Linked DNA regions of Homo sapiens. The protein of the gene in region 1 interacts with the protein of each later gene in a pairwise test. Each region holds a gene or a part of one and is shown in the gene's direction. Other genes may lie near its edges. The genes, in order: TASOR2, GPRASP3, RFC5 and FBF1.

The links.
Region 2: the proteins of TASOR2 (region 1) and GPRASP3 interact in binary tests that used the Homo sapiens proteins (3 or more experiments, as listed by UniProt).
Region 3: the proteins of TASOR2 (region 1) and RFC5 interact in binary tests that used the Homo sapiens proteins (3 or more experiments, as listed by UniProt).
Region 4: the proteins of TASOR2 (region 1) and FBF1 interact in binary tests that used the Homo sapiens proteins (3 or more experiments, as listed by UniProt).

Annotation. Positions count from the first base shown.
Region 1 is NC_000010.11:5,757,075-5,764,240, forward strand, and holds the end of TASOR2 (protein TASOR 2), read left to right. Parts: intron 1-445; coding exon 446-599; intron 600-1,812; coding exon 1,813-1,918; intron 1,919-4,215; coding exon 4,216-4,397; intron 4,398-5,457; coding exon 5,458-5,572; intron 5,573-5,954; coding exon 5,955-5,958; 3' UTR 5,959-6,666; downstream 6,667-7,166.
Region 2 is NC_000023.11:102,744,479-102,752,241, forward strand, and holds part of GPRASP3 (G protein-coupled receptor associated sorting protein 3), read left to right. Parts: intron 1-1,500; exon of another isoform or gene 1,501-1,696; intron 1,697-3,338; 5' UTR 3,339-3,433; intron 3,434-4,220; 5' UTR 4,221-4,517; coding exon 4,518-6,161; 3' UTR 6,162-7,763. UniProt on the Homo sapiens protein: Survival and differentiation promoting protein that plays a role in the regulation of neurosynaptogenesis. Induces phosphatase PP2A activity which results in APP dephosphorylation and inhibits BACE1-mediated processing of APP.
Region 3 is NC_000012.12:118,026,579-118,033,373, forward strand, and holds the end of RFC5 (replication factor C subunit 5), read left to right. Parts: intron 1-310; coding exon 311-440; intron 441-1,374; coding exon 1,375-1,452; intron 1,453-3,192; coding exon 3,193-3,247; intron 3,248-4,603; coding exon 4,604-4,700; 3' UTR 4,701-5,656; downstream 5,657-6,795. UniProt on the Homo sapiens protein: Subunit of the replication factor C (RFC) complex which acts during elongation of primed DNA templates by DNA polymerases delta and epsilon, and is necessary for ATP-dependent loading of proliferating cell nuclear antigen (PCNA) onto primed DNA.
Region 4 is NC_000017.11:75,916,875-75,924,637, reverse strand, and holds part of FBF1 (fas-binding factor 1), read left to right. Parts: intron 1-996; coding exon 997-1,452; intron 1,453-2,591; coding exon 2,592-2,693; intron 2,694-3,077; coding exon 3,078-3,166; intron 3,167-3,335; coding exon 3,336-3,394; intron 3,395-4,208; coding exon 4,209-4,364; intron 4,365-4,530; coding exon 4,531-4,631; intron 4,632-4,763; coding exon 4,764-4,970; intron 4,971-6,368; coding exon 6,369-6,476; intron 6,477-6,567; coding exon 6,568-6,707; intron 6,708-6,787; coding exon 6,788-6,906; intron 6,907-7,763. UniProt on the Homo sapiens protein: Keratin-binding protein required for epithelial cell polarization. Involved in apical junction complex (AJC) assembly via its interaction with PARD3. Required for ciliogenesis.

The DNA of each region.
Region 1 (7,166 bases):
GCTAGTTGAATCAAAGTAATTGCTTGTCTCAAGAAGACCCAACTACGGACAAAGGCTGGGTGCATAAACCTGCCGTCATCAGCAGGCAGTCGTCGGTGCTGGCACCAAGGGGAGCTGGAGACGAATGACGGCGAAGTGAGGTGACCTCACTTTTCAGTGCCCACAACCTCAGATGTGTCCTCTTCCCTCATGACGTGTTATTTCCAACCTTTGGGAGTTTGAGACCTTTTTTTAATGAACTAATTTTGTTGAGTTTGCAGCCCCTGGTGATGATGAGCTCAGTTAATATGCCTCATGCAGGGCAGAATGACCAGTCGGTAATCCAGGTTGAAATATTTTCAGTTGTTCCTGAACCTTGACTCTCTTGGATAGAAAAGCAAGGGAGTGTCTAAGAAAATGTGCCCAGTGAGCCTCTCTTCACCGGGGTCCTTTTTGTGTCATGCAGATTCCTTCTTTGCTGAAGCTGAAGCATTTCCCCAGTGTCATCTTTGCTGGAGTAGACAGCCCTGGAGATGTTCTTGATCACACCTACCAAGAACTGTTTCGTGCAGGAGGCTTTGTGATATCAGATGACAAGATACTAGAAGCTGTAACATTAGGTTGGTCTTTATTTTCTTTTCCTGTTTCTTTGAAGTCAGATCAACTTCTCACCCAGTGACCTAAATACTGTTTCATCCAAAAGAAATGATCAACTCTAAGGAATATCAGTTGCCCCCTACTGAGGCATAATTTCTGCTGTCTGCTGTGCTCTTTTCATACAGTGATTCTCTTATAGCAATGCTTTTCACCTCTTTTAACTGATTCTTACCACCACACTTGCTTCTGAGTTCCCTCCCTCTCGGTAGTGCAGCTAAGCTCCTAGTAACACAAATTCAGGATTTTATTATATTTAGTCTCTTCACTTGCCAAGTCAGAGCAGCTCCATATTAAATTGTTTGCTTAAAGTCAACCTTCTCCATTTCTGATGTCAACACCCCTACCATCTTGATGTCACAAAAATCTAAAAAATGGCTACTAAGTCAGCTTATTTAATCATCTACTTGAAAACTCATACTTTACTTCTCTCAGGGCACTTTTATGTATAAAACCTGCCCCGGCTCTGATCACATTGGAAGTGATACCACTTCTAGATCAAAAGCAGCATGTACCTTAACCAGTGTGACTTCTACACAGAACCTGGGATTTTAAATATTTGTAGGCACACGTCTGTAATCCCAACACTTTGGGAGGCCAAGGCAGGAGGATCCCTGGAGATCAGGAGTTCAAGACCAGCCTGGGCAACATAGTGAGATCCCATCTCTACAAAAAATAAAAATACTAGCCAGCTGTGGTAGTGTGTGCCTGTAGTCCCAGCTAAGGAGACTAAGGATGGAGGATTACTTGAGCCCAGGAGGTTGAGGCTATAGTGAGCTGAGATCATGCCACCACACTCCAGCCTGGGTGACAGCCGAAACCCTGTCTCAAAAAAAAAGGATTCTGTATTTAGAAACTTCATTTCTCTACTGCATCGGGGCCTCCTGCTTCTCTTCTGTCACACAATTTGTACACAGAACTCTAGTTGCTGGTGACCACTCCACTGTGTTCGTGTCTACAGAGTTATCTCCCACCATAGTGTGAGCAGGTGGGACCAGGCTGAGGGGCTTGTGAGAGCAGGATGCTGCCCAACCACATAAGTGACAGTGATGGTGTGTACTCAACCATGGGTCTTAGTCTGTTTTTTTCTTGTTTTACAAATAATTATCACTGGGCTTGGCATGAGCCAAAAGTACCTTAAACTTGTCATCTTCTTTTGCTACATTTATTGTTTTGTAGTTCAACTGAAGGAAATTATCAAAATCCTGGAAAAACTAAATGGAAATGGAAGATGGAAGTGGTTGCTTCACTACAGGGAAAATAAAAAGCTAAAAGAAGATGAAAGGTAAGGACTTGCTGTGTGTATGGTTCCTCCTGCCCTGCTGGGGTAGCAGAGAAACGCCTCATGTTCCATGGGCTCTAGCCTAGTGCTGCAGTGGAATGGCCTTCATCAGTAAAGAGCATGAGGGCTGCTGGCTCTGTATTCAATGAAGGAAGCTATGTGCTGTGACCGTAGCCAACAGTATGAGGCATGTACTTATCTAGACTAACAGAAGTAAGGGAGTCAAACTTAGCAGTCATGAAATGTCCATATTCTATTTAAGCCCTACTACTACAAACTTTAAAAAATATATGGAACTTGTACCATTAATGCTTTTTTGGATACTTATAAGTTGCCACCACTTTAAGGAGAATGGAAAAATTAAGACCATAATCTATCCTTAATTCAGTTGTACCCTAAAAGAAGAGGCTTATAAATACGCAAACTTCACTAAGTCTAAAGCTGTAATTTATAAAAGAAAAAAATACATGTTTGATTCCTTGGCTGAAGAGAGCTGGGGCTGAGAGATTCCTCCACATTCTCACAAGCAGGACCAATTGGAAAAGCAGACCTGACAAGCCCTTGTGAAATAAGGATTTCAGGCACTGTTAGGTGCATCCATTTTCATTCAGACTTCATCCCCAGGAGCTAGATAGCAAATCCTCACTTTTATAATGCAGAACTGAAGCAGAGTAGATAACAAACATGACCAAGGTCAAACAAGTAGTAAGTTATGAAGCTGGGTTTCAATCCCAGAAAGACGAAACGACTGTTAGCTGTATGTGACCTTTGAGGAACAGAATCTCAGAAAGCTTTTCTCTTGAAGTGGAGCTAGCAAAGGAGAGAAGGAGCACAGAGGTTTCCTTGGCAGGAAAGGAGGGTGCAAAGGCTTCAGCAGGTCAAGGGTATGACCATTCACAGCGGACTTCAGTAACCAGCACTTGAGGGGAAAAACGTCAACTTCGGTAAGTAGAGAAGCACATTTAAGGTTCTGATGTACCACAGCACACCTATAAAATAAGCATAAATCAATCTAGCACTTCTAGGGCTTTGGGTAGAGAAAGTCATGTCACTTAACGACGGGGATACAGCCTGAGAAACGTCATAAGACGATTTTGTCTATGTGCAGACATAGAGTGTACTTACACAAACTGATATGGTAGAGCCTACTCCTAGATTGCAAACCTGTACATGTGACTGTACTGAATACTGTAGGCAGATTTAATGCAATGGTGGTATCTGTGTGTCTAAACACAAAAAAGGTTCAGTAAATTACAGTAGTATAATTTTATGGGACCACCATTGTATATGTGGTCCGTCATTGACTGAAACATCATTATGTGGTACATGCCCGTACTCACTGCTGTTGGCGCTGCAGTATGCTCTTCATATTATACCACTCTGGCATTATGTAACAGGCGTTATGTATTATTGAGAACTCATTAGAAAACTCTTCATATCCTTTGACCTTTTGTGGAATTTACCCAAAATTCTAGGTGGTTATCAGTCATTGCAAAACCAACCTCAGTTCCATCTCTAGGAGGGAGATATGCAGACTACAGTTAAATATTTTAAAGTTTATACAAAATAATGCCCACCCAAAACTTACACAATAGAAGCATGTAAAAAGTTTCTATTCATAGAAAGAGGGATGGCATAAAAGTTGGTATCATGTAACTATGTTCAGTATGATGTCATAAAAAATTTATACAGGAAAAAGTGAAAGGAAATTAATTCATGATGTTAAGAGTGATTATCACTAGGGTTATGGGAATGGGTGTGATTTGGGTTTTCTCCAACAAGCATGAGAATGTAAGTGATGAAAACTAGAGAGACGGGAGTCGAGCAGAGACAGAAATGCTAAAAATTTAAACATACTGAGTTAACACATTTTCCTAGTAGTGATAGAATTTTCAGGGAAGCAAGAAACCAAGAAAATTCTGGCTGCTACCTAATTTTAATGAAGTTGGCGATTATCTGCCCACAAGGTATGAGAAGTATAGATGTGCATTGCTCTACAAATATACAACGCAATAAGGCCCACTCGAAATTCATGAAAGGCTTGCCAAGCCACATGGCTTGATTGGTCGTAGGTAGATGCATGATGTCCCTCTTAGAATGAGGCCCATGTTTAAAATCCACATTTACAAAAGGAGTAGGTACAATTGTGATGTTTTGAGGTAACCAAAGTGTGTCATGAAAAAGAACGTCAAGAAGAAAGGCAGAGGAACTCATGAGTTTGAATGGTTAAACTGAAGGCAAGAAAAAGTCCTAAGAATAAAACTGAAAAATATTTTAATATGCCTATGTATCTTTCACAGAGTGGATTCAACTGCACATAAGAAGAACATAATGTTGAAGTCATTTCAGAGTGCAAATATCATTGAATTGCTTCATTATCACCAGTGTGACTCTCGATCATCAACAAAAGCAGAAATTCTGAAATGTTTGCTAAACCTGCAAATTCAGCATATTGATGCCAGGTTTGCTGTCCTCCTAACAGGTAATTCACAGGCGCATTTTACTCAGTTAATGCCAAAATTGGTCAGCTCTAGGAATGTCAAAGTTAGATACCTGATGAAGAGTATCAGGTATCTAAATGGCTTGGCATCCCATGGATACCAGAATCACCCAAATCTGCTGAAGCTGAAGCCCTTATATAAAATGTAGTATTTGCAGGTAACTACACAATCCTCCTATGTATGTAAGTCAGTTCTAGATTACTTATAATACTCAATACAGTATAAGTAGTTATACCGTATTATTTTTTAAATCAATACTGGGGCTGGGTGCAGTGGCTCACACCTGTAATCCCAGCACTTTGGGAGGCCGAGGCGGGCGGATCACTTGAGGTCAGGAGTTAGAGACCAGCCTAGCCAACATGGTGAAACCCCATCTCTACTAAAAATACAAAAATTAGTCAGGTGTGGTGGTTCATGCCAGTAGTCCCAGCTACTTGGGAGGCCGAGGCAGGAGAATGGCTTGAACCCCGGAGGCAGAGGTTGCTTTTAAAAAATTTGTGGGGCAGCCAGGGACAGTGGCTCACGCCTGTAATGCCAGCACTTTGGGAGGCTGAAGCAGGTGGATCACTGAGCCCAGGAATTTGAGGCCAGCCTGGGCAACTTAGCGAGACCTCATCTCTACAGAAGTTGGCAGGTGTGGTGATGTGTGCCTATAGTCCTAGCTACTTGGGTTAAGGCAGAAGGATTGCTCGAGGCTGCAGTGAGCCGTCATCACACCACTGCACTGTAACCTGGGTGGCAGAACAAGACCCTATCTATCTTTAAAAAAAAAAAAAAAAAAGTGTTAAGAAAAATTTACGTAAAGAACCATAGTTATCATTTTTCAGGGATTTTTTTTCAGTACTTTAACCACCACCCCCGATGGAGGCATCTATTTCCAAAGCTTCAAATCTTTTCTTAATTTGGAACCCAACACCTTTTCTCCCCCTACCCCTCACACGAGGAAGTTCCACAGATTTTTTAAAATAAAAAACCAGGTCCTGTTATATAAAAGTACATTAATTATATTAACCAAAAGTTGTTTTTTTTTTTTTTTAACAGACAAGCCTACTATCCCCAGAGAAGTCTTTGAAAATAGTGGAATCCTTGTTACAGATGTAAATAACTTTATAGAAAACATAGAAAAAATAGCAGCTCCATTTAGGAGTAGCTATTGGTAAGAACACTTTTTATGTAACTTTCCCATGTGAGTTGGAGTTGTTGATGGCAAATATTGACATTTGTGTCTAAGGGAAACAGTTGGGAAACTGTTGTTTACATACTTCATGCTATAAATTTAAAGTGTTTGTTTAGGGGTGGAATTGCTATTTGGCATAAATAGGAATTCCTAAATTATCACTAAATGAAGTAACCATCTACTAAAATTACCTATTTTATCTAATGTGCATTTTCACTTGCTGTTAACTTGGATCGTCAGTACAGAACATAATGTAACCTTAGAATGCATAGGCGTTTTCCCCATTAGAGCATCCCGCTTATAAAATATTTCTTGTTCGTATTATTTTAAGAAGTTCTTTATCAATTTTGTGTTTCTTCAGGTGACTCAACTACAGCCTGCCTGGATATGGATGATGCCAATAAAAAATTAGTATTTTCCCTTTGGAAAACTTGTGAACATGTGAATACACATGTGAACAGTCTTACATTTGAAAAACCAATGTTCTACAACTTGGAAAGTTTTCATTTTTTATATTTTGCTGAAATATGTCACAGTGGCATTGCAGTTGTCTGTTAGCTTTGGGTTGCAGTGCTAGATATTGTTTTAAATTATTTTCATTTTAAACAAGATGCCTTCTAAGCTATTGAGCTTATTAAAAATAATTTTACATGTTTACTTAGTTGGAGCAAAAATAAGTCTATTTTAACAAATAGCTTTGTTTTTGCATGCTAATGTCAGAAAGGCATACGATGCACATTATGCTCTGTTTTAAAGGTTTTACCACCCTTGTAAAAACTATAATCTTAAATGGTTTTATTTGCTGTTACACAAACAACACTACATAAAACATTTTTTCCTAAATGGTACAAATTTATAAACTATCATTTTTCACTTACGGTATTTGTAAATACTACACTACAAAAATCAGCTTTCTGAGAAAGAAATAATCATTTATTTATGATATTGAAAATTTCTACAGTAAACACTCAAAACCAAGCAAAAAACATTTGTAAGATACACGGTATCTATTTGGAGCAACGGTTTTTGTAACTAATGTGTTTCATTTTTTAAATAAAGACAACTAAAAATAATCTCTTTCTGCAATGATTTTTATAGCAGAAATTGACTTATCTGGAGTGTTCTAGCAATTTTTAGGTCATTTAGCAGAACAGTAAGCTTCCAGAGGAAACCTACACTTCTATCCTTTGGGCCTGGCCTGTTCTGTTTCTGGGTTCTTTCCGCAGTCAAGTACACCGAGTAACAGGTTAAAGAATGGCAGTTTCACCTGGCCTTTACAGGGACACTTACTTCTTTCAGAAGTCATTAAGTCGGCTTTTATTATTCCTAAACAAAAGAGCTTTATTTTCTCATGAGTAGGTTTTAGAGTTTTAATTGTTGACAATTTTTCAGTTACTAATAGAACCCCAGTCATTTCATTTTATTTTTCCAAGGACAAGAGTCTATTAAGGGAACCATTAACTATTCAGTACAGTGAATTACTTTCAGATTACTAAGGAAAAGGAAAGTGAGCAGTTATAAGATGCCAAACACCTATCTATCTGCCTGAAATATGCACCTTTCAGGTTGGACC
Region 2 (7,763 bases), on another chromosome or scaffold:
AGTAGTGTGACATGCAATTGAAACTCCTGTTTCTCTTAGTATGACTAGTATCTCCTAAGTCACATATATTGGTGTGTCTGATTGAGGCATCCACAAAGGGAATACAAATGACCAGGAAAATGATCATATTTTTCTGCCTCTTTGTGCTCTATATTTTAAAATGCAGGTATTGGTACTTTTAGGAATTGCTTCACAATCTCTGTCTTCCTCTCTTGCTCCTTCCAACACTGAAAAACCATACAGAAAGCAGCTGTGGGTGGCATACTCTGGGCTAAGCCCTGGGGTTACAGGCAGCAAAGACACACCTATGAATTAGCATTGATCTGCAAACCACAGAGGGTACCATGGAATTGTCATGATTCAGTAGCCCCTCACCTCCTTCAACCCTTGACTGACTATACCGTCTACAATGTGCTGAGAATACAGTGGGGAACAATACCAAAAGGGTACTTTCATTCAGGAAACTTCCAGTCTAACAAGTCAAACTCCCCATCGCTTGGAAGGGAGAGTAAAAAAATATATATATATTCAGAAGAAAAAAGCACATGCATGCATTAGGCAGGGTGCAAGGCTGGGAGAAAAGGAGGAGTTGAGGAGCGCAGCTGGAATCTGGGATCTGCCTCGAGGAAGTGCGCGAATAGTGGTCCCCTCTCCTCCCAGAACAGTGGAGAGGCGCCAAGACCATCCCTACCTGGTGCCATCAAAGAGAGAGGACTGTTACGACCTCCTGCGAGTCCTGACAGGGAAAGGCCCTCTTTTGGGGTCAACTGTGGGGACGGCGCAATGCCAACCTGAGCCACCATTTGAAATGAGAAAAAGCGGCGTGGCAGAAAGAAATGAGTCTGGTACAGACCAGTGGTTGGTTTCCTAGGGTTAGAGGTCTAGGTCTACCTTCTGTTAGAAGAGGGGCAGTGGTGAGGCCTTGATGGGAGCCCCCTGCCCCAGAATTCACTTAAGAGCAGGTGTACCTTCCTCCCCTGCGTGGCTCCATGAAGCTGGGAAAGAAACGCACAAGAGGACCACCCTAGAGGCCCAGGCTTGTTTGGCCTGAAATCGCCTCACCCCTCCCAGACTGCACTGCTGACACCCCCTCTCCCATTAGCTTCCAGGAAGGAGAGTGAGAGGGCTGGGGAGAGGGAAGGGGCAGACACCCAGCAGTCCCTGGTTGGGGAGTTGGGGCGGGGGTGCAGACACACCAAGGGGCGGTTTGGTATCCATCCGCTGCTCCCTCCAGCGCGGCTCTTCCCAACCTCCTGATCCTGTCCCCTGCCTGGGTCCCCAGCCGCCCGCCCGTCCCTATATTATAGCAACGCCAGAAATGTGGTGGTGGTGGTCGCCACGTTAGGGTCCGCGGGGGTCCTCCTGAGGCAGCCTGGTGCCAACCCGCAGGCCCAGGCTGGGGCTCGTCATGGCCCCGCCCACCTCTGGGTCGGAACTAAGGTGGGCCTGAGAGGGGGGCGTCGAGCACTTTCGCGCCGTATCCCTCCGCCCCCCTTCCCGACACCCTCGCGGAGAGAGCGGTTCTTGCAGCATCCTGCGCAGCCCCTGCCCAGTTTGGTGCAGAGGCGTGGGGGGCGGGACGCGTCTTTGCCATTCTGATAGCGGGGAAAGCGGTGAGAATCGAAGTGAGGAGCCGCCAGAGGAGAGCTGAGGAGAGGAGGGGGAGGTCGACGACCTGGGCCCTGGGCCTCTGAAGGCAAGTGGGGGTGCGTGAGCTTGGGGTGGTCCGCCAGGGTGGACCGGCTGGCAGCCTGCCCCGCCGACCCTGACATCCTGGCAAGGAGGAGACGATCCGGTCGGAGCCGGTCGCCGGAGAGAGGTGCGCAGTGCTCGAGACCCCTGGCGATGGGGAGGCGGTGACCGGTGCAGGCCGAGCCAGGCCAAGGGCTGAGGGGCTGGCTTGAGAGGCACCGTCAGATCGTCTGGAGGAGAACCGCGCTGACCGCCTCCAAGCCAGCTTTGCAGGCGCCGGCGCCCCGCCCTCGACGGTGTCTGTGCCCGGAAAGGGCTGTGGGGGAGCTCCTGCGGGAGAAATGGCGGAGCGGGAGCCATTGTGGGGGGCTCCCGGGAAGGCCGGGGGGAGCCGGCGTCCCAGCTCTGTGCCCAGCCCACGAGAGGTGGGCCGCGTTCGCTACTCGGGGCCCTGATTCCGGAAAGGGGCCTGTGGGACCCCGTGTCTTGGGTGCTGTCCCTTCCCACAGGCTCCAGGTGGTTGTTAAAGTCTCCTGTCTGCGTGATAGGTCTGTTGGGTTCTCCAAAAGTGGAACTTTGAGTGGGTGAATTATGAAGACACTAAAATGAAATGTTTAACCGCCTTTTATAATACCGCACTGTTTTATTGCCTTACATATTTAGATCCCCACATCCAGTTTTGTGCAAGCAAATAGGGTGTGGACTTAGTCGAATTTCACAACAGTGGTCCATGTAAATAACAGGGTAGTATTTTTCCACCTTTCTTGTTCAGGATCTGTTTTCTCAACATGCTGATCCACTTTAAGTAATGTAATGATGTGTGAGAATGTGGGTTCCGAGTAGAGGGGTAATCTTTTTGAAGGGTCAATTTAGAACATTTGAAGTCAATCTGCTTCTTCAGTTTATGGTTCTGGAAACCAAAACTCCATCTCCAGCCACTCCTCACAGACCCTCTCATTTTGGTGCAGAAATAGTCCCACAGAAGAATTCATGGCATTTCTGATGGTGGATATCTGAGGAGCTATGAGAGTTGGGAGACTTTATTTACTTAGTTTCTGATTCTCAAAAAGGAGGTGTTAGAATCCGAATTCTGGGAATCTGTCCATTAACCTGCTATTTTTCTACCATTGTTAACATAGTCTCTTGGGGTTATTTTTTGCTAGTTGCTCCGCCTTCTTTTTGTAGGGCGTGACTCTTCTTTGGTGGGAAGGATAGCATCTCCTGAGAACTCCTGCTGTATAAGCAGGCTGACATAGGTGGTGAATAAAGTAGGATCTAGGTATGCATGGGGAAGGGGAAGGACATGCACAGATGGTATTAAAATAACAGTCTCCATTATGTTCCCTGCCTGCCTTGTAAGTACAATTGCCTATGTTCCACTACCTATTTCTGCACCTCATTTTTTTTGGTTCAGGAAAGGAGCTGTAACTTCTATTGGGAAAATGACTGACTTCAAAGTTGGCAGGAGGTGTAATCAGGCTGCAGGTCTTGGGGTGATTAGGGAATCATTGAGGAAGAGCAGACAGGTGGGAGACATTTAACATAGCCTTGAATATTCAAAAGCATATGTTATAATCCTTGTTATAGGCATTAGATCATCTTAGTCTCTTCTGTTTTCTTTCCTCTGCCTTCCTTTCTATCCTTAGGTCTGTTTCTTTCTAGGTTCCTGTAGAGATCTGTATGTAGCTGTTCACTTGGAAGTTAATTAAGAAAGAACAAAAACTATTCATTTGGATTCAAGGTAGGTTTATGTGTGAGCACCCCCGTTGATTGGGGTTATGGAAAGGCTGTTGCCAAGTGGGTTAGACCAGATCATATCTTGGTGCCACTGTCTTCCATCTTTCTAGTCACCTCTGACCTCACATTTGTGTACAAGTGATGGGGTGGGGTGAGCCAGGATTATGCCTATGAGGTAATTGGTAGATATTGGGGCAGGAAATGGGAAGATAAGCCACAAGGAGTACTAGGAGGCCAGAAGTGTTATATAACCAAAGCCCTAGATTTGGAAAGGCAGAAATTGGGTTTAGAGATTAGAGTGTAGGTCTGTCAACCAAATACTCAGAACTCCAATCCCATCTGTATTTTTGTCCATAGGCCTGCCCATGAGTTAACTATAGGGCATATCAACACTGCAAACAGGGAAGGAGGAAAAATTGCACTAGATCAGTGCAGGTTGGTGTGAGTGCTGCCTGAATACACCTATGAGGTCTAGTGGTATATATTTTAGTGGTGGACCTACTAGCATGGGTCCAAAGAGACTGGGCACTCCTTTAGCCTTTCTCACTCTCAGCAAGCTTACCTGCCATCTTTGTTCCTGTTTGATGCAGAGTAAAAGAATGACAGTGCTTGGGCAGGACATTGTTGAGCATTAGTGGCAGTGTGCAAGGTATAAAATTAAGTAGCAGAGTTTTTTATTAATCCACTTCTACACAATTCATTTCTACTCTCCTATGTCCTTCTGTGTGGCTGTTTGCATAGAGAAGCACAGTTAGACAAGACTCAAAGCCAGTTTCTTTCTTCAACCTCAGGTCCATCTCCACTGGTGGCTGTGGTGGCTTTGGATTGTTGGAAGACCATCACCTTCAGCAGGTCTGCACTTGGGAACAATCATTCTCCCCCAGCCCGAGCGTGCCTCTGCCCTCTGTATCATTGACAGAGGCTGTATGTTTGGAAAGAGAACTTTGTGACTGCAGAACTGACAGTTGACTCTAATTCTTGCTACCAAGTTTTTCCCCGACCCAGTGAAAGAGTGTTAAGACTTCGACCTAGGACACATTGAGAACCAAGGCCAAGACTGGACAGGGCCATATAACTGGGCTTCAACCATGGCTGGGACTAAGAATAAGACAAGAGCCCAGGCCAAAACTGAAAAAAAGGCTGCTATACAAGCTAAAGCTGGAGCAGAGAGGGAGGCTACTGGTGTTGTTAGGCCTGTAGCCAAGACCAGGGCCAAAGCAAAAGCCAAGACAGGGTCTAAGACAGATGCAGTAGCAGAGATGAAGGCAGTGTCTAAGAACAAGGTTGTTGCTGAGACGAAGGAAGGAGCTCTGTCAGAGCCTAAGACTCTGGGCAAAGCCATGGGAGATTTCACTCCCAAGGCTGGGAATGAGTCCACCAGCTCCACATGTAAAAATGAGGCTGGTACTGATGCCTGGTTCTGGGCTGGGGAAGAGGCCACTATCAATTCCTGGTTCTGGAATGGAGAAGAGGCTGGTAATAGTTTCAGCACTAAGAATGATAAACCTGAAATTGGTGCCCAGGTCTGTGCTGAGGAGTTGGAACCTGCGGCTGGGGCCGATTGCAAACCTAGGTCAGGGGCTGAGGAGGAGGAGGAAGAGAATGTTATTGGGAACTGGTTTTGGGAAGGAGATGATACTAGTTTTGACCCTAATCCTAAACCTGTGAGCAGGATAGTTAAGCCTCAGCCTGTGTATGAAATTAATGAAAAAAATAGGCCCAAGGACTGGTCTGAGGTAACTATCTGGCCCAATGCCCCTGCTGTAACTCCAGCTGTGTTAGGATTTAGATCCCAGGCACCATCTGAGGCAAGCCCTCCTTCATATATTGTTCTGGCCTCCGCTGAAGAAAATGCCTGTTCTTTGCCTGTGGCAACAGCTTGCCGCCCTTCTAGGAACACTCGCTCATGCTCACAGCCTATCCCTGAGTGTCGTTTTGATTCTGACCCCTGCATCCAGACCATAGATGAGATTAGACGTCAAATCAGGATCAGGGAGGTAAATGGGATTAAGCCATTTGCTTGTCCTTGCAAAATGGAATGCTATATGGATTCTGAGGAATTTGAAAAACTTGTTAGCTTACTTAAGTCAACTACTGATCCTCTTATTCATAAAATAGCACGGATTGCAATGGGTGTCCATAATGTTCACCCATTTGCCCAAGAGTTTATTAACGAAGTAGGTGTAGTGACACTTATTGAAAGCTTGCTCAGTTTTCCTTCCCCTGAAATGAGAAAAAAGACTGTAATTACTCTGAATCCTCCTTCTGGGGATGAAAGACAACGCAAAATTGAATTACATGTTAAGCATATGTGTAAAGAAACCATGTCATTTCCTTTGAACTCACCGGGACAGCAATCTGGATTAAAGATACTAGGACAACTGACTACTGATTTTGTCCATCACTACATTGTTGCCAATTACTTTTCAGAGCTTTTCCATTTGCTGTCCTCAGGAAATTGCAAAACCAGAAATCTTGTTTTGAAACTACTTTTAAATATGTCTGAAAATCCAACTGCAGCCAGAGACATGATCAATATGAAGGCATTGGCAGCATTAAAACTCATCTTTAACCAGAAAGAGGCAAAAGCCAATCTTGTTAGTGGTGTGGCCATATTTATTAACATAAAGGAGCATATCAGAAAAGGCTCAATTGTAGTTGTTGATCACTTGAGTTATAATACACTCATGGCCATTTTCAGGGAAGTTAAAGAGATTATTGAAACAATGTAAAATGAGCCAGAGATAGAACATTTTAAGCCATCTTCAAACTCTAGCAGGCTGTACATTACAGTGTACACATTATACACTGCATCTTTAACACAGAGTCACCTGTGACAGGCTCTAGGTTTGAGCTAGACTATTTTGGGGGTATCAAATGAATATTATACCTTGGGCTGAAAATGTTTGATTTTTATCTTGTCTAGATTGGCATATTTTTAACATTTTACTTAAGATAGCAAACCAGTTCGTTTTAAGTAAGCTAACTTGTTCATTAGTATCTGTGGCTTAAAATGGCAAAAAAGAAAATATCCTTGAGTTTGTAATCTAGTTACAGAAGTAAGGCATACACACACACAAAGATAACAGTACCTAGAGAGAGAGTGTGTGTGAGTGTGCGTGTCTCTGTGTGTGCACGTGCACGCTCATGGCCAAATGTGCGCACTCTACATAAAGGAGGCAGGAGTTCCTATAGGCTATTTAATGTAAGAGAAACTATTTTTCTCCTGTTCCAGCTGTATCAGATACTCGTTCCGCAACACAGAAATGACTCAGAATCTCAGACAAAATGTATTATTTGTTCAATTTTAATTTTGCTACTACATTCATAACTCTTAAATTGTTAGGCTGTTTCATTTACATCAAAGTTATCTCACAAAAGAGAAGGCAGGAAACGTTTTGTGAGTGCCTATTCTATGTCAAACACTGTGTTGGCACCATATTTTACAAGTTTTTTTCCTCTTCTCACAGTGATCTTGTGAGTTAGTTACTTATATTTTTATTAGAACTCATTATTCTGGGTACCCTCCAATGAGAATTAGAGAGGTTAAATACCTTTTCCTAGATTCCCACAGCAGGAAGGTGGCATAGCTGTTTTGTCTGACACCAGAACCCATCTCACCACACTGCTTTACAGTCTTCCTGAAGGACATTTTGAGGTGGGGGGGCCTTCAAAGCTCAGAGACTGGTTTGAATGGTTTAATTTTGCAATGGATCATGTCCATGCCAGGTGTTACAATTCTTAACTTCCTCCAAATTCGTGTGTCCATTAGACATTTGGCTACATCTGGCTGGAGGTCAGGAGAAAATTCTGAGGTAAATAGATGGATTTTATCTGGCAGTGTCGAAAATAGTAGGAGCCTAAAACTTTGTTCAATGAGTAAGATGTAGATTTGGAGTCATCAGCAGGGGAAACTTGTTAGATGTCCTTTGTATCTTTTTCTATCCATTTGTATTTTTTCTTTCCCAAAGAGCTGAAATCATTTTATACCCTGAATTTAAAAGGTAATTGCTTTTTTCCTCCTTGCGAAATCATACCTTAATTTTTTTTTTTTTTTTTTTTACCATTTATGATTTATTCTCCTATGTGTCATATGAAAGGCCAAGGGGCTTTATCTTTTACTAGTAGGCAAGCCTGGGCATTTCTGCATTTGTGCCAGCTAACACTACAAAATAGACTTAATTAGAGAAATTTAGACCCAGAATTGCAGCTTCAACAACACAAAACAGGAAAGCTAGAAGAGGTTGCTGTGTCAACCTACAAGATAGTGATTCTTGGAAGTTGGTATGGACCAGAAAGCATTCCCAGGACATTTAGGCTATGGCTGAGTTCTC
Region 3 (6,795 bases), on another chromosome or scaffold:
ACAGAGCAAGACCCTGTCTCAAAAAACAAAGAGAGAGCAAAAGAAAATGTTTTAAAAACAAAAGGAATCATTTGTTGCAAAGAAGGCAAAGGGAGGGAAGGATTTGGCACTGGAATAGCCAACAGGCTGTGGCATCCTCTGATGAGGTGACTCTTCCGGTATTGAATATGTGGGTTCCCACTGCCTTGTGCCCATAGAACTTTGCTGCTCACCTGCATTGCTGCCTTGGCAATTTCTTCTTGGCTCCCTGCAGCTTGGTGGCAGCTGTGACAGCCACTGTGATCTCCCCTTTCCCCCTCTGTCTACACAGAGCACCAATATGGCCTTTGGGAAGGTGACAGAGGAGACTGTCTACACCTGCACCGGGCACCCGCTCAAGTCAGACATTGCCAACATCCTGGACTGGATGTTGAATCAAGATTTCACCACAGCCTACAGAAGTATCCTTTCTCATGACCTCCTGGCCACCGAGACCTGAAGGTGGCCCCAGGAGTTCAGGTTGCAGCCAGCACCCACACCTTGCTGGCAAAGGATGACTGGCTGCAGGCGACTCTGGTCAGCTTGTTGTGGGAGTGAGATGTCTGTAGGTGGAGTGGGTACTTGTCTTTAGCACTCCAGAGTTCTTCTTGGAGGGCTCTGACCTTCAAGTCAGGGTAAGGCTTGAAGCAGCTTCACTCACAGATGGGAGAAAAGCTTAGGCCTTGGCATTGAAGATGCAGGAATTTTCAAGTGGTCATGATAGTGATAGCTCTTGTGCTGTGAAATGAAAGGCTAGGAATGGTGACACAAAGCCTTTTTGGAAATGCATTTGGGGCTGGGTGTGGTGGCTCATGCCTATAATCCCAGCACTTTTGGAGGCTGAGGCGGTAGATCACTTGAGGTCAGGAGTTCAAGACCAGCCTGGCCAACATGGCGAAACCCCGTCTCTACTAAAAATACAAAAATTAGCCGGGCGTGGTGGTGGGTGCCTGTAGTTCCAGCTACTCGGGAGGCTGAGGCATGAGAATTGCTTGAACCCGGGAGGCAGAGGTTGCAGTGAGCCGAGGTCATGCCACTGTACTCTAGCCTGGGTGACAGAGGGAGATTCCATCTTAAAAAAAAAAAAAAAGAAAGAAAGAAAAAGAAAACGCAGTTGGCTTTATTCTCTACTAGAAGGAGTTACAACTCTATCTTTCAGAAAGCCCTTACTGAAGATGAAACAAAGAAAAATAAAGAATTGGAGTCCAACACGTGCAGCTTCAAGTTGAAAGAGAAACAGTTGTGTTGGGATTAAAAGCCTTACTTTAAAAAGTCTCTTGCCCGGGTTTGGATTCAAAATTCTCTGCAGTATGTTTGTTCTGGAACTTGTTCCCTTTGCCTTAACTGCTCCTCTAGATATTACAGAGTTGAAAACTCTGAAGGGGTTGGCACTGCATGATATCCTGACAGAGATACACTTGTTTGTGCATAGAGGTAACTTACATTATCCCCCAGCTGAGAAGCTGTGGAGAAGGTAGCCTGCTTTGGGGTTAAGGATGGTTAGGACAGGAGGCTTCATTCTTGAAGCAAAGAAACTAATGAATTGTAAATCAGACCCTTCTTGTTAGCAGTTCTGTCTTGCCACTGTTTAAAATTTTGTTCCAGAGCTGGGTACGGTGGCTCAAGCCTGTAATCCTAGCACTTTGGGAGGCCAAAGCAGGCAGATCACCTGAGGTCAGGAGTTGAAGACCAGCCTGGGCAACATGGTGAAACCCCGTCTCTACTAAAAATACAAAAAATTAGCCTGGCATGGTGGCGCACGCCTGTAATCCCAGCTACGTGGGAGGCTGAGGTGGGAGAATCATTTGAACCTGGGAGGTGGAGGTTGCAGTGAGCCAAGATTTGCCACTGCACTCCAGCCTGGGCGACAGAGCTAGAGTTTGTCTCAAAAAAAAAAACAAAACAAAACACAAAAAACGTGTTCCATAAACCCTCTTTTAATATCTAGAACTGCTGGGGAAAGTGAAAACTCCTGGAGGCTAACTTTATTTCCTCTAGGGGTTTATATTTTATAGCAGTAAGTAGTATATATTAATTCACATTTCTAAAAAAAAAAAAAAAGTCTGTCTATCTATCTGTCTATCTAGATATATATTCCCAGAAAAGAAAGAGAAGATATGTAAACCATGTAAACCAAAGCAGGCTTAAGGAAAACATCTTAAGTTCCACACTTGCCTGTACCTTCTACACAGAGAATTGGTTCTCAACCTTGGCAGCAGATAGGGGCACTCCAGACAAATTAAGTCAGCTTCTCGGAGGACAACCAGGCATCCGTATTCTCTAAGCTCCCCAGGTGACTTGTGTAGGCTTTCGGAGAAGCTCTTCCTTCCACAGTGGCCAACTGCAAGATGGAGACTTAACCGGGTCAATGAATGTTGGTTCTGCCCAGGCCTTCACAGGCCTCTTCCTGGCTGGCCCATGCCATGCCTTCTGCCCAAGGTATGGTTGGCTCAGGCCCAGCTCTGCACCTTGATTGTGGAAGCTGAGCATAAACCAACTTTAAAAAATCAGTTGTTTGTGCTTGGTTTTTAAATGGGGACAGGATCGGTATAGTGGCTGACGCCTGTAATCCCAACACTTTGGGAAGTCAAAATGGGTGGATCACTTGAGCCCAGGAGTTTGAGACCAGCCTGGGCAACACGGTGAAACCGCATCTCTACAAAAAGTACAAAACAGCCAGGCAAGGTGGCGCACACCTGTAGCCCCAGTTACTCAAGGGTCTTGAGGTGGAAGATCCCTCAAGCCCAAGAGGTCAAGGCTGCAGTGAGTCATGATCACGCCATGCCATGGCACTCCAGCCTGGGCAAGACAGTGAGACCCCGTCTCAAAATAAAGTAAAATATAAAATAAAAACAGCAAGTGGGAACTCAGCATTCAAGTTAACTTGTAGAGCTACCCAGCTGCTAAGAGCAGTGTGATCTTTGGTGCTCTTAGGATCACTTTGGTATCTGCTCATTTTCCTTTTTGTCTACCCTATAAAGCACAAAATCGAGTGGGTAAAAAGTATGAAACCAGCACTGTTTCTACTTTCTTAGAGGTCTGGTATCTAGTGAGCAGGCTGAGGCCTCAGGACTAGTTCAGTGTTAAGGATTTCATGTTGAAACTCATTTGTCCTCTGTGGGTTTTTTGACAGTAGAGAGTGACCTAACTCATTTGATTTTGTTTTTCCCTCAGTTGACTTTCCATCTTCAGTTCGAATACATTTATTGACCAAAATGGCAGACATTGAGTGAGTACTTCTTGCCCCAGTTTTAATTCTTTTCTTCCTTTTTTCCCCTGTTGTGAGTTATTTGTTTCAACTTTCTTGGTTTCAGGTTTTTTTCCTAAATCGTTCACATACGGTACAATCTAGTCTGGTGATATTGAATGGAATGTGGGGAAGGGTGTGAGCTGCTTAAAGAACATGGGGATAAATTCACAGGTCAAGTACAGATCAGTTACATATCTGAGATGAAGGCCTCTCCTTGGACCTCACAGGCTCGGCCCACATTGATTCTGAAAATGCCCTTGTTATTTGGGAGGCCTGCTTTGCTTCAACCACCCAGCTGTTATTAAGGCATTTTGGCATACTAAAGCATATTGGGGGGAAAAGTAAACACAAACTCAATTTTCTGCTTTGCCTGGTTCCGTAAACACTGTTATTAGCCCCCAGTGAAGCTGGCAGCTATCATTTAAGTAGACAGAGCATTGGGTTCAACATAGACGTCAGCATAGGCCAACTCTAATTTGTGGCATTGGCTTTCACAGGCACAAATTAGGTCACCTCTCCTCATTGCATTGTGAATATGATGATTTTGCTATCAGTGGCTGGGCATTTAAAAGGTGGCGAGATGAACTCCAGTGTCCTGCTTTACTGACTAGACCACAGACCCACCAATGTATCAGCCAAACTTCCCGATGAAATGGCTTAAGAGGAAGGAAATCTCTGTTTTGTTTCCCTCTTAACGTATTTTGCCGACGAAATAATCCTTCATTACATAAATTTTGTATATCTGTATAGTTAGGACAAAGTTAAGTTCAGAACACCGCTGTTGACACCTAATAATTTATTTCTTTTTTTGAGACAGAGTCCCACTCTGTCGCCCAGGCTGGAGTGCAGTGATGCAGTCTCGGCTCACTGCAACCTCTGCCTCCCAGGTTCAAGCGATTCACCTGCCTCAGCCTCCTGAGGAGCTGGGATTACAGGCATGCACTACCATGCCCAGCTAATTTTTGTTTTTTGTTTGTTTGTTTTGTAGAGACGGGGGTTTCACCATGTTGGCCAGGCTGGCCTCCAGTGATTGGCCCGCCTCCCAAAGTGCTGGGATTACAGGTGTGAACCACCACGCCCGGCCTGATACCTAATAATTTTTAAAATTGAATCGGTCCTTACAAGTTTGAAACATCACATTTATAAATCAATGTGTAGGGCAGAGAAGAAAATGTTAGGGGGACACATACAAGATTGCCATCCAGGGCACATTTGTTCTATCAATTCCCATCCCCACTCCTTCAACAGATTTTCAGCCCTAGATCTCTTGGTCCCTTAAGAAAAGGCAGCTGTGTTTGGTGTCTTTTTTCTTACCCTGTGTTTGGTTTCTGTTAGGTACAGGCTTTCTGTTGGCACCAACGAGAAGATCCAGCTGAGCTCCCTCATTGCTGCATTTCAAGTCACCAGAGACCTGATTGTTGCAGAGGCCTAGATGCTCTGAGGGCCATTCACAATTCTCAGGGCTCAGCAGTGATGGGAGAACAGAGGACAGTTCCAGGATAAACTGCTGCCTGGGGCTGTGGGATGAATCAGTCACCCCGAATCTTGGAAAAACCCCCTTCCAGGAGAGGATGGGCAGGCATTTAAAAAGTACCATTTTTGTGGTTGTTTGGAGCAGGGATGTACAAAATAATTTTAATGTATTAACTCATACTGCCTGTCTTTTATAGGGGAAAAAAATAACCTTTTTTATTTTAAAGTTATAAGGTTTTTACCTTTTAGTTGCTTGGATGACAGGGAATTAGCCTACCCCATTTTGGTCTGGAACAGAAGACTTTCAAATTTAATATGGTCCAAGTGTCTTCCTACTCAAGGTAAACATTATCTCCAAAATTACATTTATGATTCTAATATTTGGCATTGTGTCTGTATCTAATTTAAACAGATGTTAATGGACGTCTGGCCGAAACTATTATACTTTTATAAGATGAGCTGAATCCTCTTACTTTAAAAACTGGTCTTTTTATTTACCCTCTGTGGTAGAAGAGTCACCAGCAGGTTCCAAATTGATGTGTATGATAGGAAAAAAACCTTAATTTTAAATATAATATAGAGCCTTAAACTATGCCACTGGGTGGCAGAGGCTGTATAAAACGCACTTGTTTTCATGCAGGAGCGGGGCAAGTAAGGTTGAGCCTGACTGTAAACCTAGAACTGCGGAAGGACTGGGACTTTTGTACAAATTTCACATTTATTTTACAGCAATCATGCTGCATTTGTGTTAGTGTTCTTTATAATAAAAAACAAAGCAGCCTCCTGGCTGGCTGTGTTACAAGTGACTCTTCCTTAGACAGCTAGAAAGATGCTGACTTTGTCAAACTTGCATTTATATGAAAACCTTCTGTCTCTAATATCACAGAATAAACTTTCTTTAGATGCTGTTCTTTATAAAATGTCAAATTCTTAAACTGTCAAATGGAAAAAGTCACTATTCCCTTTGTTCATGGAGGACTCACCCCCTTAAGGACAGCGGCAAAGTATGAAGCTAAATATCTGATGGCCAACCAGGCCTCAAACCACCCAGAGGCTCAGCATCTGCTGTACCTGGAACTTCAAGATAACCATGAAATGTAAACGTTGGCCAATCCATTCCCAGCTCTTCTGCTGTACTACTTGTTTTATGTGTTTATTTTTTGAGGCAAGATCATGCTCTGTCAGTCACCCAGGCTGGAATACCGTGACACGATCGTGGCTCGCTACAGCCTCCATGTCCCAGGCTCGAGCAGTTCTCCCACCTCAGCCTCCTGAGTAGCCGGAACCACAGAACCACAGGTAAATGCCACCACATCCTCAGCCCCCTGAGTAGCTGGGGCTACCATGCACACCAGCACCACACTAAGTTTTTTTGGCTATTTATTTATTTATTTTTTAAATAAAGATTGGGTCTTATCTCACTCTGTTGCCCAGGCTGATCTTGAACTCCTGGGCTCAAGCAGTCCTCCCACCTCAGCCTCCCAAAGTGCTGGGATTACAGGCATGTGCCGTCACACCCAGCCCTGCTTGTTTTAAAAGGGGACTTTTTTTTTTCTTAATGGAAAAAAATGAAACAGAGAGCCAAAAGCTTTTAACTGTTGTTTTTTTCTTTTCTTCAATGAAAGCCTCTCATTTTGAAAAGACATGTTTTTCTTCAAGCAACAAAGGTGGTAGAGGAAATTCCTCAACTTTCTCAACGAGTCATGTAACGTTACACTGGCCTCCATAAAGCACCGATTAAGAAAGCTAAAGAATAAGATGTTGTATTTCTTTTAAAATAATTTAAAATATATTAAATTTTCCTAAGGCAGGTTTTGTTTGAATGAGGTGTCTTGATTAGATAACTACATGCCACTGAAGGAGAACAGTACTTTTAAGGAGCTATTTTTGTTTCGCAGTAGAGTTGAAACCAGCTGATTAATCCAATGAAGTTAAACAGCAGAGACAGATCTCGTACATAAGAGTATCAGCTAAAGTCATGACTACACCAATTCTTTACACAATTAAGACATCTTTGCAACTGTTCAATTTAAGTACTATGGTTTTTAGATAAT
Region 4 (7,763 bases), on another chromosome or scaffold:
GGCGTGGTGGTGGGCGCCTGTGATTCCAGCTACTCGGGAGGCTGAGGCAGGAGAATAGCTTGAATCCTAGAGGCGGAAGTTGTGGTGAGCTGAGATTGCACCACTCACTGCACTCCAGCCTGGGCAATAGAGCGAGACTCCGTCTCAAAAAAAAACTTCAGAAGTTGTAAGAACAGCACCAGGAGCCCCTCTCATCCTTTCCCAGGTTCAGCAGTTGTTCCCATTTGCCAGGTTGGCTTCTTCATCCTCTTTCTATCTGAATAGCTCTAAGCACATCGGCATTACTTCCCATACCCAGTACGTTCTTAACCCTGGGAACCTGCTGCCACTGGTCAGTGACAGATGAAGGCCACGGCCGAACAAATGAAGTAACTGTTGTTGGAAAACCTGGAAACCACTTGATCCAACTTATTATTATTTTTTTTAGACAGAGTCTCACTCTGTCGCCCAGGCTGGAGTGCAGTGGCATGATCTCGGCTTACCACAACCTCTGCCTCCCGGGTTCAAGCAATTCTCATGCCTCAGCCTCCCAAGTAGCTGGGATTACAGGCGCCCACCACCACACCTGACTAATTTTTTTGTGTTTTTAGTAGAGATGGGGTTTCACATGTTGGCCAGGCTGGTCTTGAACTCCTGGCCTTAAGCGATCTGCCCACCCTGGCCTCCCAAAGATCTGGGATTACAGACATGAGCCACCGTGCTCGGCCTGATTTTTCTTTAGACCTGTGTGCCCATGGCTGTCATTTGATCCTGTTCCTGTTCTCTGTGGGTAGAACTGTCCCTGGTTCATGTGATGGAAGTCAAGGTCTCTGTACTTCGTGGTGTTCTACAGACAGCACGTGGCCTGCCACCTGAGCCGGTCCAGGAGCCACTGCTCACTGGGCCTCAGCTGACTGTGCAGGGTCCCTGGGCATCGTGACGCCCAGCTGCAGGCTGCTAGGGGGCCACTGGGACTGGCTGTTTCCCCTGCCTGACACCCTCCTTTCTGTCTTGAAGTAGGTTCTTCGCAGACAGTGGCGCAGACCCCAAGGGAGAACCAGGCTCCAAACAGAGCCCTCCAATGGCTTCCAGCCCCATCCAGCCCAGGAAGGGAGGAGCTGACTGGTTGGGCCTCAAGGACGAGGACTTGGACCTGTTCCCTGCCTCACCCACCAGAGAGGCCCATCGGGAAAGTTCAGTGCCTGTCACGCCCTCAGTGCCTCCTCCTGCGAGCCAGCACTCCACGCCAGCTGGGCTGCCCCCCTCCAGGGCAAAGCCACCAACTGAAGGTGCAGGGTCCCCTGCCAAAGCCAGCCAGGCTTCCAAGCTGCGAGCCTCCAAGGAGGAGAAAGAGGACTGGCTGAGCCATGCCCTGTCTCGGAAGAAGTCCCAAGGCCTGGCCAGAGAGCAGCATGCTGGGACCTCTGAGGGCCTGCATTTGGCGGGGACAGCGGGCCATCCCCCTTCTGGCAGGTACTGACTTAGGCTGCTGTGGCTAGTAGGGGGAGGACTGGCTGGGGACTTGAGGAGCCCCTTTGCCCCTTCACCTGTTGCAGCCTCAGTCAGCAGTTGGGGAACAAGGCAGGGCGCCGTGGCCACAGAGGCCGCTTCTTGGCTTTGCTACTCTGCCTTTTAGGCACTGCAGAGAGAGCCTCTGGCTCCCAGGCTTGCCCCAGGGACATACCCAAGAAGGAGGGCTGTTGACATTCATGCCCTGACCGCCATGGGGACAGGTGCTAACTTGATCGAGGAGAAGACAGAGGGTCCCTGAGGTGGCAGACACACCGCTGCCCTGTCACAGCGCCCTCAGGCTGGAAGCCCCGGCATCCAAACAGCCGGTGCTTCTGCCGACTCCACTGAAGCGAGTATGGCGTGTGTGAGCTGAGATGTCCCTGTGCTCTTTGAGAGTGTTAGAGGAGACATAGTGGCCGAGAGGCGCCTCTTGGAGAAGCCCTTATCCGTGGGGCAGGATAGCGAGTGACCTCTGAAGGCAGGAAGGCACAAGGGGCCAGCAGGCTGGGGGAGTCCAGAGGAAGTGGTGAGATGTGCTGTGGCCAGAGCCCAGGGGAGTGAACTGGGCAATTTGTGACAGCCCAGGGACATCACCCTGTCCTGGGGTTGATGACAGGAGGGCAGTTTTGACTTTGACCTGAGGCCGAGGGGAAAGCTCAGGCCAAAACAGAAAAGAGCCTGTCTCTTCACTGACCCGTGAGCCGAGAAAGAGGTGGAAATAATGGGAAAGGGAGCCAGCCAGATTTGGTAGACTGAGCAGAATCCTAATCTAGAGCTGAGCCAAGTTAAGTGGACTGGAACAGGGCTCTGAACTTGAACTTGACTCCAGTGTCTATAACATTTCCGTTGTCACTGCTTGGACAGTGTCCATTCACTGCACCACTGTGGACATTGAGGCAGGAAGGGGGTACTGGAAGGGAAGAGATGCCCAGAAATCCCAGGAGCTCAGACGTGGGAGGAGAATGCCCCAAGACGGGATGGTGGAAGCAGGAGGAAGGGGGGCCACGAGCTTCACGTGTGAAGCCCGTCCTGGGCCCTGTCTTCATCCAGCCTGACCTGGGCCTTCTGTCACCTTCACCTTGAACGCTGCCTTTCCTCAGCCAACCTCTCACCAGCACACAAGGGCTTGAGCACGCAGCTGCTGGAGGGAGTTCTGGAACAACTGCACGAGAAAGACCGTGTGTCAGGCCTGGTGTCTCGGGGTAGGCCTGGGCTGCGGGCTGAGTGGGAATGAGAGCATGGTGGGCAGCACAGGCCTCTGTCCTGAGAGAGGGACACAGAGGCTGTTCACCCTGCCCCTGCCCCGTCCCCGTGTCCCACACAGAGGCTGCCCACCCTGCTCCGTCCCTGTGCCCTACACAGAGGCTGCCCACCCTGCCCCATCCCCGTGTCCCACCTAGAGGCTGCCCACCCTGCCCCGTCCCCGTGTCCCAGCAGAGGCTGCCCACCCTGCCCCATCCCCGTGTCCCACGTAGAGGCTGCCCACCCTGCCCCGTCCCCATGTCCCACCTAGAGGCTGCCCACCCTGCCCCGTCCCCGTGTCCCACACAGAGGCTGCTCACCATGCCCCATCCCTGTGTCCTCAGGTCCCCTGTGACTCAGAACCATGCCGCCTCAGCACTCCCTACAGGTTCCCCAAAGAGGGGAACAGCCCCTGGAGACCTCTCAGCCACTGGTTTGTTTTTTGTTTGCTGCTTCATTTGGGAGTTTAACCCTGGGTGAGGAAGAGGTGCTTTGAGCTTCCTTTGGGGTCCCTGGGACATGAGTTACACCAGCCCCTCCTGGACACTCGCAGGCCCAGTGCCCTGGGCCTCCTGTTCATTTCTCTGTTGTTGATGTTTCAGAGCCTGCCACGTGTTTCCCGAGCACCCAGAAACCCACAGAGCCTTCCGTGCCCGTCCAGGTAGGGGTGTGGGCAGACAGGTCTAGCTCAGGGCCTAGGGAGCAATTCTCCATGCCCAGGGGCAATACCCACAGTTTGACCTGACGACCTGCCAGGAAAAATGTGTCAAACATACCAAATGTGACGTCAGCCAGCTCCCCGGGCACCCCCCACTAGAACTTGCCTGAATTTCTAGCCTCGCTGCTCCTGGGCAGAGCTGGGTGTTAATTTGCCTACATCAGTGGGGAGTTTAAGGAGGCAGCCAGGCCGGGGAGCTGGGATGCTGCAGTCAGAAAGCAGGGCCGCAGGGTCCTGTTCTGTCAAGAAAGCCTCCTCCACCCTTGCCATCCTCCCACCACACCTCTGCCTCTGTTTCCCATGTGTGGCAGTCACCTGTGACACCTGGGCCTGGGAGGTGTGCCCCCCCCCCCCCCAGGAGTGTGTCCCTGGGAGATGGTGGGTAGGGGACAGCTCGTGGGAACCAGATTAGTGTCAACATGTGGGCTTCAGGCCTGACAGGAAAAGCCAGCATCAGCTTTTGTCATAGCGAAGACTCTGCTGGGGTTCAGCCATTTGTCTGGGAAGCCGGAGACCATGCTGGGGAGGAAGCTGTTCCGGAGGGTGGAGGGAGACATGCTCCTGACCAGATCTGCAAGGGGAGGTACACTGGGGACTGCTTAGCCGCAGTGACTGTTACTTTCCAAGGCCTTGGCCCCATCTGCAGCCACAGATCAGATGCAGGGAGGTCCAGTGAGCAGTGGGCCAGGAGGTAGCTGATCTCAGCTGGGCCCCTGTCCCCTCCCTAACTAGAAACACCTCTCTTCCTCTCCTCCAGCCCCTGCTCCCAGAGTCCCTGGCCCGGAGCCTGCTGCCGAGCACAGAATACCAGAAGCAGCTCCTGGCAGCACAGGTGCAACTTCAGTGCAGCCCCGCTGAGCTCCAGGCCGAGCTGCTGCATAGCCAGGCCCGGCTGGCAGAGCTGGAGGCCCAGGTGAGGGGCAGCGGGGCCGTTGGTGCTGGTGGCAGGGTTGCGACAGGAGGGGACACTGAGAGTGGCTGGAAGCTTCCCCAGGAGGGAGGAAGGGCTGTTGGCACAGGGCAGCGTGGAGTACAGCCACCTCCCCTCCCTGGTTGCTGGCCCTCCTGCTGTCTCCCAGGTGCGGAAGCTGGAGCTAGAACGGGCCCAGCATGAGCTGCTGCTGGGGAGTCTGCAGCAGCAGCACCAGGCAGACCTGGAGCTCATCGAGAGTGCACACAGGTACCCTGGCGCTGGCCCCAGCTCTGCCTTGGATCTCACACTGACCCCAAAGGCCACCCAGTGTGCCTGGAGAGGCCTTTAGGCGGCAGCCCTCTGCCTTCCTTGCGCCATGGCTGGGTGTTCTGTTGGCAGAAGCCGCATCAAGGTGCTAGAAACATCGTACCAGCAACGGGAGGAGCGGCTCCGGAGAGAGAACGAAGAGCTGTCAGCTCGGTATCTGTCGCAGTGCCAGGAGGCCGAACAGGCCCGTGCTGAGCTTACGGCCCAGCACCAGCGGCGCTTGGCGGCCATAGCGCAGGAGAAGGACCAGGAAATGGAGCGGCTCCGGGAGCTGCAGCGGTGAGGCCCAGGGACAGGCAGCTGGGGAGCAGGCTTGCAAGGAGTAGCCGGAAGAGAGCCATCCCCACGAGACCCTTCGCTGTGGCTCAGCAGCCTTTGGACAGGGGTTGGGTCCTTCCCTCCCAGTCCAGTGAGTGAGGACTGAGGGCTGAGCACACTGACCCATCACACCCATGGGTGGGGGTGCCACCTGCTCTTACAGAGGCAGGAGGGGGTACCCACAGGCTGTTCAGGCATGGCATGGCAGCAGCAAGCCGCCTAGGGTCTAACTAAGCACAGGGTCATCCACTCGCCTGCTCATGCAGTAGAGGCTAGAAACAAGATCCACCTGGGAAAGGCTTGCGCTGTTGTGCCTGCCATGTTTATAGGGTTGCCTTTCTAGAAGAGAAGGAAACTAAGAAAAGTTACCTAAGGGAGTCAGAGGTCGATGAAGGCAGAGGCAGCCTTTTAAGACTGCTCAGGGCCGGGTGCAGTGGCTCACACCTGTAATCCCAGCACTTTGGGAGGCCGAGGTGGGAGGATCACTTGAGGCCAGGAGTTTGAGACCAGTCTGGGCAACACAGTGAGACCTCATCTCTAAAAACAATTTTTAAATAAGCTGGCATGACAGCTACTCCTGTAGTTCCAGCTACTTGGGAAACTGAGGCAGGAGGATACCTTCAGCCCAAGAGATCAGGGCTGCAATGAGCTATGATGCCACTGCACTCCAGCCTGGACCACAGAACAAAACCCTGTCTCTAAAAACATTTAAAAAACAAAACACTTGGGAGGCCAAGGCAGGAGGATTGCTTGAGGCTAGGAGTTCAAGACCAGCCTGGGCAACATAGTGAGACCTCATCTCTAGGAAAAAAAAAAAAAAAAAGAAAGACTGCTTGGGGCCGGGCGTGGTGGCTCACACCTGTAATCCCAGTGCTTTGGGAGGCCAAGGTGGGTAGATTGCCTGAGCTCAGAAGTTCGAGACCAGCCTGGGCAACACGGTGGAAACCCCATCTCTACTAAAATATAAAAAATTAGGCGTGGTGAGCGCCTATAGTCCCAGCCACTCGGGAGGCTGAGGCAGGAGAATTGCTTGAACCCAGGAGGCAGAGGTTGCAGTGAGCCGAGATCATGCCACTGAACTCCAGCCTGGGCGACAGAGTGAGAGACTCTGGGTGACAGAGCAAAACTCCATCTCCAAAAAAAGAAAAGCTGAATAATGGGAGGAATGCCCATCTTAGTGCGTGTAGCATTGAGGCACCATGACAGATAAGACAGAGGAGCTGGGGAAACTGAGGCAGTGCCCGGCGGAGGAGAGGCCTGGGAGCAAGGGCTGCACGGAAACACACCCTTCCACAAGGAGTTACCGCATCAGGGTGATCCAGCTCAGAGTGACCGCCTTCCCCTCCCGCCTCCCCTCAGGGCGTCCATCCTAGACATGCGCAGAGACCACGAGGAGCAGCTGCAGCGGCTAAAGCTGCTGAAGGACCGAGAGGTCGATGCGGCCACCAGTGCCACCTCCCACACGCGGTATGTGCGCTGCCCCAACCATGCCCGCCTGACGTTGGGGGCCGGAAGGTCCCCGAGACCGTCAGGAGGGGGTGACCCAGTCTTCTTCCAGGTCCCTGAATAGCATCATCCACCAGATGGAGAAGTTCTCCAGCAGCCTGCACGAGTTGTCCTCCCGCGTGGAGGCCTCGCACCTCACCACCTCCCAGGAGCGGGAGCTGGGGATCCGGCAGCGTGACGAGCAGCTGCGGGGTACGCCCTCCCCTCTCAGCCACCCCGGCTCCTGGTGGGAAGGGGGAGCAGCTGCTGAGCACCCTGTGGGTTGCCCCCAGCACTGCAGGAGCGGCTGGGCCAGCAGCAGCGGGACATGGAGGAGGAGCGGAGCCGGCAACAGGAGGTCATCGGGAAGATGGAGGCACGGCTGAATGAGCAGAGCCGGCTGCTGGAGCAGGTGAGGCCCGTCCTCCTGGCCCTCCTGCCCCTCCTGCCACGGGGCCTCTTCTCCAGGGCACCCGCAAGTGTAGCGGCACTCCCGTGACCTCACTTCCTCAGGAGGTCAAGGCCCCACCTGCCGCTTCCTGCCTCTACATCTCCCTGCCCTGGCCAGGCTCTCAGCACTGCCCACCTGAGCATGCAGGGGCCGCCTGGCCAGGCCCCCCACCACGCCCTGTCCGCTCCTCAGCACCGCAAGCCCCTCGGCCACCTTGGCTGCCCTCCGCAGTCTAGCCCCCGCAACCATCAGCTGCACTTCCCACTTCCTGACACTCGAATCTGTCACATTAGCTGAGGCCTGACATTGGGACAGATGCTCTTGCCCATTAAATGTCATCCTAGCCTCTTCAGCTCTCACAGAGACATTTGAATTCCCTAGATACCTTTCATATATAAGCACATGCTTTATTTAAATAATGATGACCTTAGCCAGGCACAGTGGCCTGTGCCTATAATCCCAGCTACTTGGGGGGCTGAGGCAGCAGGATCACTTAAGGCCCAGAATTTGAGACCAGCCTAGCGAGACCATAAATAAATTTTTTTATGCCAGGCAAGTTGGCTCATGCCTGTAATTCCAGCACTTCAGGAGTCCAAGGCTGGAGGATCACTTGAGGTCAGGAGTTCGAGACCAGCCTGGCCAACATGGTGAAACTAAAAATAAAGAAATAAGAAACTAGCCAGGCGTGGTGGCGCACGCCTGTAATCCCAGCTACTAGAGAGGCTGAGGTGGGAGAATCGCTTGAATCTAGGACACAGAGGCTGCAGTGAGTGGAGATCATAACATGGCACACCAGTCTGGTTAACAGAGCGAGACTC